2 separate regions of the Homo sapiens genome follow, and region 2 is linked to region 1. Evidence: fine-mapped expression QTL. Tissue or cell type: whole blood. Region 1 holds a variant in brackets; the other region holds the start of a gene. All regions are shown on one strand. Distances are between the middles of the regions.

The links. PIP is the estimated chance that this variant, and not a neighbour inherited with it, causes the effect.
Region 2: it holds the start of PBX1, and the variant in region 1 is fine-mapped to the expression of PBX1 in whole blood (TOPMed, PIP above 0.99).

Annotation. Positions count from the first base shown.
Region 1 is chr1:164,773,371-164,776,134 of GRCh38, reverse strand. All of the region lies in intron 2 of PBX1 (PBX homeobox 1), which reads right to left. It overlaps PBX1-AS1 (PBX1 antisense RNA 1), which reads left to right and starts at 1,494. Exons shown (of 4, transcript NR_038072.1): 1 at 1,494-1,706. The variant G/A (reference allele first, on the strand shown) is at 1,193.
Region 2 is chr1:164,557,450-164,560,213 of GRCh38, reverse strand. PBX1 (PBX homeobox 1) reads right to left here and starts at 1,030. Exons shown (of 9, transcript NM_002585.4): 1 at 201-1,030. The coding sequence starts at 391. RefSeq lists an enhancer at 949-1,448.

The DNA.
Region 1 (2,764 bases):
CACTAAATCAAAGACCCATTCCTTGATTGGTTACTATGGGCCAGACAGGTAACGGTCACAGAAATGAAAGACAAAGTGCCTGCCCTAAAGGAAATGATAGTGTCATAGAGAAAAGCTGACAAACCGATTATTAGTATACAGAGATGTGGAGGAAGTTTACTCAACAAATGGCCTCAATTGTGATATCATCACAATTAAGCCTTTTGACATTCATCCTTATTTCCTTACTCCAGTGTAGACTGCCACATATTCAAATATACAAACAGACCCCAATGTATGCCCATGCAGCAGGTGACAAGGGCCAGGTGCTTGTGTTTACCTGTACTTGTTTCAGCACTCACCCCATCCTTACACCATTAAACCGAATAGCCATTTGTAGGGCTTAAACACTTAAAAGCCAGTATTAAGCAGAACCTCAGCTCTGCATCTGGGGACAAAATACCCCGCAAAAGGGATGGGAATCCTGAGAGTGCAGCCAGCATAAATCACGCCAACATCACTGGGCAGACGGTTATAACAAAATGCACTTCCTCCTCCATGAAGAGCAAGGGCTTCGTAGACTGCACCCAAGCCACAAGCTCCACACCAGACCAGAGATGGGCTGGTAGGCAGAGGCAAAGGTGGTTTCAAGGCTTCTGTGGCTTTGAAGAAAACATCTTTGAGTGTGAGAAAGCATTCACATGGTCTCTGCGGGCATCCTTTCCCTGTGGTCGGGCACTCTTCAATCTGTGGCTGTTGATTTCACCACACACTCAACTTGTCCCGCCATAGTCCTCCCTAACGTAGCCCTAAAGACAAAAAGACCACTAAGATCGCCTTGCAAACCTAATCAGAATGTGGCAAGTCTGGGGCAGTGATCTTTCACTCTATGATCTTTGACAGTGGGTCCTAGGGGCAAAAGTCTCAGACTCTTAAAATCTTATCTGGCTCCTTCCGTTAACAGAGAAAAGTAAATATTTAGCCACCAGCACAGAGGTTGAGAGAAAAACAGCTGTAATCAACACTCCACTTCTCACCCCTCCCAGATCAGAGGTGAAGCCTGACACCCCTGACCCCTAAGCGAGCTTCCTCGGTGTAGCGAAGCACAGAGCCCAGCCAGCAATAATTCCACATATAAACAACTCTTGCTAGGCATGAAGCACACACCAGACAGTAATCAGCTTATCTAACAGAACAGGCCTCTTTTCCGAAC[G/A]CAGAGGAGGATTAGCAGGCTTGAATTACAGCCGTGAAGTGTAATCAAGCCCTGGTGGACCCTGGCAAAGGCTACTGTATATTCCTGCTGGGCCATGGGTTGTTGGCACGATGTGGTGTACCTACAGGGGACGAACAGAAAATGCTTGAGATGGTAATTACACTGGGAGACAGCAGTTGAGAAATGGGGAAGAGCAAGTGTGGAGGGGAGAGAAATCAGATTCCAGCTGATGCCCACGTCCTCCACATCTTCCAGTCTTTGGAAAATCTTGAAGTTACTGGATTTGAACAGATTTTTCTGGCTTATTAAAAATAGAATATTGCCTACATCACATAAAGGGCAAACTCCGCCCTCACTTGGTCACAGAAGCAATTACAGCATTGTCTGTAGTACACAGCCCACGGCCTCTAACCACAGTGATGGGCACACTTGGTGATGTGCAACTCAGTGGGGCCTACAGGGTCCCAGCTGACATAGACATCACAAAGGAATTTGAACCAGGACTCAGAAATAGGTAGACAATTTTAAGAATTGTATCCTCACCTTGAAGATGCTAAAACCAACCAGATGGGGGTTTCCTTTTATACCTCCCAGATGGAGACTTCTCATTTCGAAAACTTGAGAGTCCAGCATTTAATGATATGCCTACAAAAAAGTCTCTACTTAGTGAATTCCATGAAAAAAGGCACTATGACTTTTGAATTTTTTGAAGCTTCCCAAAGAACCCTGTGCCTTGCTGAAAAAGAAAATTGTCTTATGTTAGGTTTATTTTTTTTTTATTCTGTCATTTATTTGTGAAGAACTTTCCTTAACATCCTATTCATAGCACCCCACTATGTAAAACAATTCAACAACTCATTAGCTTTCCCTTAAAGTAATCTTAGCCCCCTCTGAAGTTCCTCATCTATCTTGCCATCTATCCTTTTCTCTTACTCATATTTCTTAAAGATCAAAGAATTCAAAGTGGATATCACGTTAAAAAATTGCCTTCACTAACATGGGGAGTCGTAGAAAAATAGCTTCCTGGCTTTCTTAAGTTCTGGGCCTCTTGAGGCAGATCCACTGCGTTAACACTGCAAACACGCTTCCTTCTCTTCAGTCAAATCTCTCCCCAGCTAACTCTTCTAATACCAGCTTTCCAATGCCTTCCCAACACCCAATCCTTTCCAGTACACTTGGAGAGAGCAGAGACTCCAGGTGACATCATGAATCCCCTCTAGAGATGATCCATGGGTGAAGAGAGAGTCATGGCCCATGCAGTGTGGGGTACGGTTGAGGGCTCTGAAATGTGCCACAGGCCGCTCGTCCTACCAGTCCCAACCTATTCCTCACTAGCTTATCCCTTAAGACACATGTCCCCAAAACCACTCTCCACATTTAATCACAGCATAGAAGCCTGAAAGCAGTGATCTTTCACGCCATAGTCTTTGACAGGGAACTCTTAAGGCCAAAACTGCCAGACTCTCAAACAACTGATAAGTGCATAAACCTAATTTTCAAAACAATTTAATTGACTACAGTCTGATTGCTGGTACACATGAAGATATACCGTGTGTCAGCAGTGTTTGAAAT
Region 2 (2,764 bases), 220 kb after region 1:
CTCGGCATGGGCGATTACACTTTCGATAACAACGCTCCTTCAAATTTTACTCCTCCGCCATGTAGTTGCTTGTCAAAATGAGAAAAGAAATAACATTTTTCAAAAAAAGCGCTGTGGTGATTCGGTTCCCATTGTTTCCCCCTGCAAGAGGAAGAAAAACAAAAAACCCCAAGAAAGGAAAAGAAAAGCCTCCATCTCACCTGGCCTGCGCCTCATCCAAACTCTGGTCTGTGATGGTCATAATTTGCTGTAAAATGTCTCCAATGTCCTGCTTCCTCCCGCCCTCCCCCTCGGTCCCTCCGGCCCCATCCTGCAAGTGCTGGGACAGGCCGGGGTGTCCGGCCATCCCGACCCCAGCATGGGAATGCATCAGCCTGGGCTGCTCGTCCATCTCCAAAGGCTACGGCAGCCCCCGGCTCTTCCTCTTCTGCTCCTCGGCTCGGCTCCTGGGAAGCACCAAGGCTTTTTATCCTTCAAGCTTGTCTTCAAATCCTTTTCAGGATAAACAGGGAAGGGGGAAAAAAGAAGACCAAAAGAAAAAAAAAATCCCTTTGCCTCTTTAGAGGATGGTGGGAGGATGAGGAGGGGGAGGGGGAGGGGGCGTGAAGGGGTTGCGGGGTGAGGGTGGGGATAAGGGCTGGTGGGGAAGGGTGTTGACTCCAAAAAGCAAGAAAAATAAACCACCTTCCCACTTGGCGAAAAGAAATCAGAGCTGGCTTTAGGTTTTTCAGTCCGGTCTCCTTTGCAAGGCAGAAATGGGCTCCCGGCGCTTAAATCTGTGGCTTAATCCTTTTGCAAATATGCATTGATCGGGAGAAAGGAGAGGAAGGCAGGGGGATTGCAATGCAAACTTTCCCCCCCCACCCCCCGCTGCCCCCCACCCCCACTCCGGGCCAGAGTGATCTCAAAGGGGGTGGGCTGTTGCAAAAGCCAGATCTCCCCCAGCCGCGGCGGCAGGCAAAGCACAGGCTCTCTCCTCCTCCGTGTCTCTGCAAACTCCAGCAGCCCCGTCAGCCTCCTGCTTTTGTTTAGCTCAGGCTCAGGACTCCAGAAACATATACAGAAAAACCACAGCCTGAGAGGAGGAGGAGGAGGAGGAGAAGAAGGAGGAGGAGGACGAGAAGGAGGAGAGGGGAGGGGGCAAAGGGAAGGGGAGGGGGCGGGGAAGCCGGGAGGCTGGGGAGAGGAGGAGGGAGGAGGGCGCCTGGAGCTCCTCCCCGCTTCCCTGATTGGCCACCAGATAAAGGACCGGCCCCCTCCTCCCCTACTTTCCTCACGGCGCCTCCTCTCCAGCCTCCTTCAGCTCCTCCTCGCCCGGCGCCCTGTCAATCAGAGTTCAGAGGTGGGCCGGGAAGGAGGCCGAGCTAATAGCAAGTCTCCAGTCCTTAAAGGTGCAATGGTACTGTAGTTCCAGCTCACTTAGTTTCCACTTTCCCTGCTCGCCTTACTTAGGTTGCGTCCTTGAGGAAAATGTGGCTCCACTTAAATGCAAACATATAAAATTAACACGAAAGAACACAGACGGTGTGCGTCTTCCCGCCCACCCCTGCTTTTCTTTTGCTGTGGCATTGTCATTTAAAACTTGATTCTTTTAAATGCTTAGACCTCAGGGAAACTGCTGAGAGCACAAGTTTGTCAGCACGACGTAGTTATGAAACACAATCGAGCTGTTAATATAATTAATAAAGATCTCTAATAAGTGGCAGATGTAATAATAGATACATTTAAAAAAACAATTCTAGCACAGTAAAGGTGAAAAGAATACCAAACTGTGTCATTTTTGCTGCATGAAAACTAAATTATGGACTATGAAACTGAAAAATGCTCAAGAAAAAGAAAGATTAATAAATAAGTTCACCAAATGAAACTAATTCAACATTTCTCTCTCTTCCCCCGGGGGAAATTAGTTATTTGGCTTAAATACCTAATAAAGAAATGCATTATCACAGTCTAGTTCTAGTTTTTAATATAGTCTAATAAGCATTATTAACTGGGAAGAGAAGTGAACTGACATTTATTGAATGCCTACTATGCACCAAGTAATTTGCATGAGTTATTTTATTTAATCCCCAAGACATCTTTGTGAGTTATGGATTATTATTTCCATTTTACAGAGAGGGAACTCAGAAAGGTTAAATAATTTGTCCAAGGTCCACAGTTATTAAGTGTCAAAGCTGGAATTTAAACCCAAGTGTGACTCCCTCCAAAGGCCTAGTATTTCCACTGCACAATCTGCTTCAGTCTAACAGAAATGTGTGAATAGTGTTAAAAATTAGTTATGTGTCTATTGCCTGTCCAGTTTGAAAGGAAACTTGAGGTGCTTAAAAGGGTACATATTCCAACAAGACAACTCCAATTGAAAATGGGTAGGAAAAAATAAAAAATAAATACAATGGGATCAAGAAAAAAGCCAACAAAAGTCATAACTAAGGTCCAGTATCATAGCTCCAGACAGACACAAATTTGCTTCCAATCTTTTCATTGGGCAAAGTGAGAGGGAAAAATCTGACTGTGTACACAGTCACAATGAATATAAGATAAAATAGCAGGCCAATTACTTAGGAAATGTCCAGAATATTTTGTAATATAAAATATTCTATTGTGTAGCCAGCCCTCTTCCTGGATGGCAGTATAGCAAAGGAAATGCAAAGCGCAGTGTAACCAATCTGCAAGCGCAGTGTAACCAATCTGCAAAATGGAAAGCAGCCTTGCCAGGTGCTTCGAGATCCTCAAATAAAATGTTATTCTTCTCACCAATCATTAC